Linked DNA regions of Homo sapiens. The protein of the gene in region 1 purifies or fractionates together with the protein of each later gene. This does not show direct contact. Each region holds a gene or a part of one and is shown on either strand. Other genes may lie near its edges. The genes, in order: DHRS4L2 and PREPL.

What was found.
Region 2: the proteins of DHRS4L2 (region 1) and PREPL purify together in Homo sapiens (affinity purification with mass spectrometry; one large-scale study listed by BioGRID and IntAct). This does not show direct contact.

What each region holds. Positions count from the first base shown.
Region 1 is NC_000014.9:23,998,780-24,002,602, forward strand, and holds part of DHRS4L2 (dehydrogenase/reductase SDR family member 4-like 2 isoform 1 precursor), read left to right. Parts: intron 1-2,083; coding exon 2,084-2,154; intron 2,155-2,253; coding exon 2,254-2,305; intron 2,306-2,604; coding exon 2,605-2,738; intron 2,739-3,823.
Region 2 is NC_000002.12:44,326,740-44,330,562, reverse strand, and holds part of PREPL (prolyl endopeptidase-like), read left to right. Parts: intron 1-1,450; coding exon 1,451-1,626; intron 1,627-3,634; coding exon 3,635-3,823. UniProt on the Homo sapiens protein: Serine peptidase whose precise substrate specificity remains unclear. Does not cleave peptides after a arginine or lysine residue. Regulates trans-Golgi network morphology and sorting by regulating the membrane binding of the AP-1 complex.

The DNA.
Region 1 (3,823 bases):
TTTGCTTTCTTATCATTTATATGTTCAGAGAAGTAGCACTTTTAATTTCCTTCAAGAATTTTTCCTTTGCATTCACAATTTGGCTAACTGGTGCACATGGTCTAACTTTCAGCCTGCCTCAGCTTTCAACATGCCTTCCTCACTAAGCTTAATTGTTTCTAGCTTTTGATTTAAAGTGAAAGATGTGTGACTCTTCCTTTTGCTTAAACACTTACAAGCCATTGTAGGGTTAATAGTTGGCCTAATTTCAATGTAAATGTGTCTCAGGGAATATGGAGGTCCACAGAGAGGGAGAGAGATGAGAGAAGGGCAGAGCAGTCAGAACACACAACATTTTTCAATTAAGTTGACCTTCTTTTCTGGGTGTGGTTTGTGGTACCCCAAAACAATTATAATAAAACCATGAAAGATCACTCATCACAGATCACCGTAACAGATATAATAATAATGGAAAGGTCTGAAATATTCCAAGAATTACCAAAATGTGACCCAGAGACAAAGTGAGCACATGCAATTGGAAAAATGGCTCGAATTAATGCAGGGTTGCCACGAAACTCCAATTTGTAAAAAAAAAAAAAAAAAAAAAAAAAAAAAACAATATCTGCAAAGCATAAGAAAATATGTGTCTATAACTTTTCTTTTAATTTGTATATTTTTTAAACTATCACAGTATGTCAAATCCAAACATAATGGCTGATCCTTGATTGAACTCTGGACTTTAAAAAACACACACACACATTTGGGGGATAATTGAGGCCAATATGTTAGATAAAATTATCATCATTGTCAAACTCTTGGTTGTGATAACAGATTATGGTTGTGTAAAAGAAAATCCTTACTCTTTGGAAATGTATGCTAAGTATTTGGGGATAGAACATTGTACTATCTGCAACTGAGTTTACTTATTTTATTTTAGGTTATTTATTTATTTTTGTGATGGAGCCTCACTCTGTTACCCAGGCTGGAGTGCAGTGGTGCTATCTCAGCTCACTGCAACCTCCACCTCCCGGGTTCAAGCTATTCTGCTGTCTCATCCTCCTGAGTAGCTTGGATTACAAACACATGCCACCACGTCTGGCTAATTTTTGTATTTTTAGTACAGACGAGGTTTGCCATGTTGCCCAGGCTGTTCTCGAACTCCTGACCTAAAAGTGATCCACCCATCTTGGCCTCCCGAAGTGCAGGGATTGCAGGCATGAGCCACCATGCCCAGCCCTGAGTTTTTTTTTTTTTAATTTACATTTTTTTATTTTTGTTCTTTGTAATTTTTGATTTTATTATATAAAATCTTTCAGAAAACTTGCAACTGAGTTTCAATGGTTCATTTAAAAAACTGTACAGATCTACAGAGAGGACAAATAGGACAAAATGTGAACAATTGGTGACTCTAAGTGAAGGATATCTAGACATTCATTGTACTTCTATCTCCAATTTTTCTGTAAGATTGAAATATTTTAATATAAGCAGTTGTCTAGAACAGTGTAAACAGGGTCATACATTTGTTTTAGATTATGGATGTGGGGATTCTGATTGTAGCCTGTCCCCCAGCTTCCCCAGAAGGTGACTCCTCATGATCCCACTTTCTAACCATGCCTAGCCAGACAGTCCTTCCTAGAGGGCCAAGAACATCTCACTCCCTAAGCCCAGAAGCCAGAGAAGTGCTAGAACAACCCCACATATCCAAGGTCAGGCCACATTTTCCCTGAGAAGCATGGCCTACTCTAGGGCAGGTCCAGGAGGCTGACAATTCCAGGCTCTACCTACTTGGAAGAAACAGAGAAAACACAGCTCAAATCCAAAGGCCCCTTCTGGCCCAAATCATACTTGGCTGATTATGAAACAAGATGAACCAGGCTCCATTTTTGCTCACCTGAACCTAATGTATCATTATCTAGCTGAGCAGCTGGTGAGAGCTACTTCTCCCTGAACCTCAGTTCCTTCATGTGTAAGATGCAGGTATATCATCCTAAGATCTTCGTCAGCTCTGACAAACATCCTAGGAACCCACTCTAACTCCTCATTTTTTCATGCCTCCTCCAGTGCTCTTCACTCATGCTGTTTCCCCTTCTTCTCTTGGCTTCAGACTCTGGACATTAATGTGAAGGCCCCAGCCCTGATGACAAAGGCAGTGGTGCCAGAAATGGAGAAACGAGGGTACAGAGAGTGAGAGAGAGCCTGGGTGAGAGGGGACCCCACACAGGCTGAGGGCAGTGGTCCACACTGGGAAGACGGTCAGCTCTCTTCTTTTTCCAGAGGCGGCTCAGTGGTGATCGTGTCTTCCATAGCAGCCTTCAGTCCATCTCCTGTAAGAACCCTTTTGTCTACCTCTTCCATCCCACCCTCCACTCCACATCTTTCCACCCCTCCTATTACCCAAAGAAGTTTGTGTCCCCTTGTAGAATCACACCACCAAGTCCCTGCCCACAAAATAGATGCCTTGCCTCCACAAACCATAACCTAGGGGAGGTTTAGCCACAAGACAGTTTCCTAACTCTGCCCCTCCCTTACAGGAGATCCCTACTGAGCACTGCCCTCTATGTCTAGTTATTAGAACCAAGAATGACCTGGAAACTATGAGTCTAACACATTCTCTTCTTTCTCCAGGGCTTCAGTCCTTACAATGTCAGTAAAACAGCCTTGCTGGGCCTCAACAATACCCTGGCCATAGAGCTGGCCCCAAGGAACATTAGGGTGAACTGCCTGCACCTGGACTTATCAAGACTAGCTTCAGCAGGATGGTGAGGAAGGGGAGCTTTGCATTTGACTGGGACCCCTTGAAAGGCATCCATCTTCTTGGACAGGGAAGCCCACTACCTGAGTCCTGAGCTCTCAGCCACTCCATTCTCCTTCCCTGGACTTTCCCATATTCCCTCTCTGTACCACCTGCCCTATACAAGCCACACTCTTATCACACCTTTTCTGAGGTATAGGCTGGAGACTGAGGTATTCAGACTGTACTCACACTGTTTCCTCCCTCCTTACATGGATGAGAATTGGAGAGACGCAGCAAAATGCATCACTAGAACCTGAAACAAATGAAACAGATGAGGGCAGTGGGGAGAGCTGGGAGCTAGAAAAAAATAGGAAGTGAAAGAGGGAAGTCTCTCACCCCATCCCTCCTCTCAGTTACCATGAGGATGGGCAGTTTCTTCCCTTTCCATTCTTCACTTTCCTCTTCTTTTTTTTTTTTTTTTCTTTTTTAATTATTATTATTATTATACTTTAAGTTTTAGGGTACATGTGCACATTGTGCAGGTTAGTTACATATGTATACATGTGCCATGCTGGTGCGCTGCACCCACTAACGTGTCATCTAGCATTAGATATATCTCCCAATGCTATCCCTCCCCACTCCCCCGACCCCACCACAGTCCCCAGAGTGTGATATTCCCCTTCCTGTGTCCATGTGATCTCATTGTTCAATTCCCACCTATGAGTGAGAATATGTGGTGTTTGGTTTTTTGTTCTTGCGATAGTTTACTGAGAATGATGGTTTCCAATTTCATCCATGTCCCTACAAAGGACATGAACTCATCATTTTTTATGGCTGCATAGTATTCCATGGTGTATATGTGCCACATTTTCTTAATCCAGTCTATCATTGTTGGACATTTGGGTTGGTTCCAAGTCTTTGCTATTGTGAATAATGCCGCAATAAACATACGTGTGCATGTGTCTTTATAGCAGCATGATTTATAGTCATTTGGGTATATACCCAGTAATGGGATGGCTGGGTCAAATGGTATTTCTAGTTCTAGATCCCTGAGGAATCGCCACACTGACTTCCACAATGGTTGAACTAGTTTACAGTCCCACCAACAGT
Region 2 (3,823 bases), on another chromosome or scaffold:
AGAACAAATCTTAAATGACTACTTCTCAGTACCATTTGCTTGCTGCACCTCTTAGAAATAATCATTGTTACCCACTTAGTGTATTATCTTTTAGATAGGTTTTATTTGGTTTTACAAACATGGAATTAGACTAGTCTATCAAAATGTTGCAATTATTGGACCCGAGATGGAAAGAACAGTTAAGCACCATGTTCTTGGAGAGCCAAGAGGGGAGAAGGGAAGCAGCTGCTGAATGGAAGCGCTATACCTTTCCACAGGCATTTTAGTACTGCTGGCAAACCCAGATCCAGCCCATCACAGGAGTAGCTACTGTTTTACCTCTTCCTTTCAAAACTTTTCAACAAGCAACTTTTTCTGATTGTATAATTGAAGTTGGGGAAGAGTTGGGAAGTGAAAAGACCAAGAGTGTTTTATAGAAATTAATCTACATCAAGTTTTATAAAAGTGAATCTTACTAAAAGTGAAAGTTAACAATGTCATAACAACTTGGGTATTTTAAAGAAGAATGAGAGGAGAATTTCCTCCTTATTTGATTACATTTTGCTGTCTCCAGTTATTGCCCCAAAGTGAAGTTTTCAAAATGAGAATGAAAATATGAAGAGTGACTTGGATGTATTATTTATTTTCTTTATGTAAACGGTGCTATTTCATTAGTTTAAGCAGGGTGAAAACCAATTTCTTTATCTTTTTTGTGTGAAAGGTAGATCAGAATTAGTTCTTTTGTCTGTTCAGAGACTGCCTAGTTTCAATCAACTGGAACTGATGAGTTTGAGCTACATTGGGGGATGGTTACATAACCTACAAGTAACTTAGTAACCTTACAAATAATTTAACTTACTTTAACCCTACAAAGAATTTTACCGAAAAATTTTAAGACCACTTTAAATTTTTTTTAATAAAGTTAAATGGGCCTTTGAAGAGGATTGTGGTAGTTATCAGTAACATCAGTAAGATTTCAGGTCTTAATGGTTGAGAATTCCGACTACAGAGGATATAGAAAATTGAGCTGGTAAGACTTTAGTCAGCATATTTGTAGATACTCAAAAGTGAAAAATGCCAATATCTAGCTCTTAGGCATAGGAAGAGTGCTATACTAGGACTTCTAACCTTGGTAAGTATTTTGGTTTCATCTGAAAATTTAAAATTATAGTAGGTAGTGAAGAACTCTTTAAAATTACATTATTGTCATGAAAAGCTGCATTTAATAAAATGTTTTCAGGCCAGTCTTGCTGCTCTTTTCTGGTTAATACTGTAGGACAGCAAGGTAGCTGAAACCAAAAGCCATGATTTATTTTTAGAGACCATAATTCTTTTTCTTAAACAAATTTGTGCTCAACATCAGTAGGTAGCACACAAGTGGGGACAGTGCACCTCAATGTATTTTAAATTGGGATAAAACAGTTATTATAAAAGACTCTTCTTTACATACATAGTAATTCTTCATTTCTAGGATGGAAAATTAGTGCCAATGACTGTTTTCCACAAAACTGACTCTGAGGACTTGCAGAAGAAACCTCTCTTGGTACATGTATATGGAGCTTATGGAATGGATTTGAAAATGAATTTCAGGCCTGAGAGGCGGGTCCTGGTGGATGATGGATGGATATTAGCATACTGCCATGTTCGGTGAGTCAGTATATTTTACCTGGCATGTAAGTGCTAGACCATTGTGAGAGATGTCAAGAATAACAATATATATCAGGGAACAAAAGCTTATTTTTTTCATTCTTATTATTCAATTTTTGTATTCCTAAACCAGCACTGGTGAAACTTGATTCTTTAACAGATTAGTTGATCCAAAAAGCAAAAGGATAGGTTTTTAGGATTTTTGCATAGAGGTACCAGACTCTGTACTTATTTAGTAATATTATTATTTCCTTTCAGTTCTCCTGAATTCAGGTTTAAGTAGCCTCTGAATCTGAACTGTTTTCCATTTAACTTCCATTTTATTTCAGCTGTTTTCAAGACACAAATATTATTTTGTATTTCTGCTTAAAATTCTTCTCCACCTCCCCATCTCTAGAACACAGTCCAGATTCCCCAGTATAATACTCCTAATGGTCTGATGGATCTCTGTAGCGGCATTTAGCATCAGACCCTTTTTTTTTTTTTTTTTTTTTTTTTGTTTGAGACAGTTTTGCTTTGTCGCCCAGGCTGGAGTGCAGTGGCACAATCTCGGCTCACTGCAACCTCTGCCTCCCAGGTTCAAGTGATTCTCATGCTTCAGGCTCCTGAGTAGCTGGGACTACAGGCGCACACCACCACACTGTCTGAATTTTTTTTTTTTTTTTTTTGAGATAGAATCTTGCTCTGTCGCCCAGGCTGGAGTGTGCAGTGGCATGATCTTGGCCAGGGTTCAAGCGATTCTCCTGCCTCAGCCTCCTGAGTAGCTGGGATTACAGGTGCCTGCCATAACTCCTGACTAATTTTTGAAATTTTTGTAGCGATGGGGTTTCACCATGTTGGCCAGGCTGGTCTCGAACTCCTGACCTCAAGTGATCCGCCCGCCTCAGCCTCCCAAAGTGCTGGGATTACAGGCATGAGCCACCGTACCAGCCCGATTTTTTTGTATTTTAGTAGAGACAGGGTTTTCCAATGTTGCCCAGGCTGGTCTCGAACTCCTGAGCTCAAGCAGTCCGCCCGCCTCAGCCTTCCAAAATCATGTCCTTTTATTTTTTTTATTTTGTTTTGTATTTTTTTGAGATGGAGTCTCACTCTGTCTCCCAGGCTAGAGTGCAGTGGCGCAATCTCCGCTCACTGCAACCTCCGCCTCCCAGGTTCAAGTAATTCTCTTGCCTCAGCCTCCCGAGTAGTTGGGCTTATAGGCACGCACCACCACACCTGGCTAATTTTTTCTATTTTTAGGAGAGACGGGGGTTTCACCATGTTGGCCAGTCTGGTCTCAAACTCCTGACCTCAAGTGACCTGCTCACCTCAGCCTACCAAAATGCTGAGATGACAGGCTTGAGGCACTGTGTCCAGCCCCCAAAGTCATGTCTTTTAAATGACATGCTCTGTCACCTCCTTGCCCTTATACATGCTGTGTCGTATCTGTGTCTTAATGCCTTTTCTTTGCCCTCTGGAAACTCAAATTTTTCCTTCACAACTCAGTTTAGGCATCATCTCCTTAAAAGCATTTGTGTTCCTGACTCGTGTATATACCCCTCACCTGGCAGATGGATGTTCTTTCCTCTGCTCCTGTAATACCTTAAATACACTTGTATTGTAGCAATGACACCACATTGCTGGGTAAGTCGTTGTTTTCTTACCCCACAAAATTACTGTCTTCTCCACGGTAGGGGATTTTCGTTTGTTTCTACTTTTAAGGTCTGTACTTAATCCCTGATAAATGGGCAGGCACTCAAAATATATTCGTTGAATCAATTCTGGATTGTCTATATCAGGAGTTGGCAAACCTTTTTCTCTAAAGAGCTACATAGTCACATTTTAAGCTTTGCAGGCCGCGTACAGTTTCTGTTGCACATTCCTTGTTTTCACTCAACCTTTAAAAAGCAAAAACCAGTCTTAGCTCCAGGGCCACACAAAAAACAGGCCTCCAGGTGTAGTTCGCTGACCCCAGCCTACAGTATTAACTTTTTTTTTCCACTAAAACTTTTTTGCCCTTCAATTTCAGAGGTGGTGGTGAGTTAGGCCTCCAGTGGCACGCTGATGGCCGCCTAACTAAAAAACTCAATGGCCTTGCTGATTTAGAGGCTTGCATTAAGACGCTTCATGGCCAAGGCTTTTCTCAGCCAAGTCTAACAACCCTGACTGCTTTCAGTGCTGGAGGGGTGCTTGCAGGAGCATTGTGTAATTCTAATCC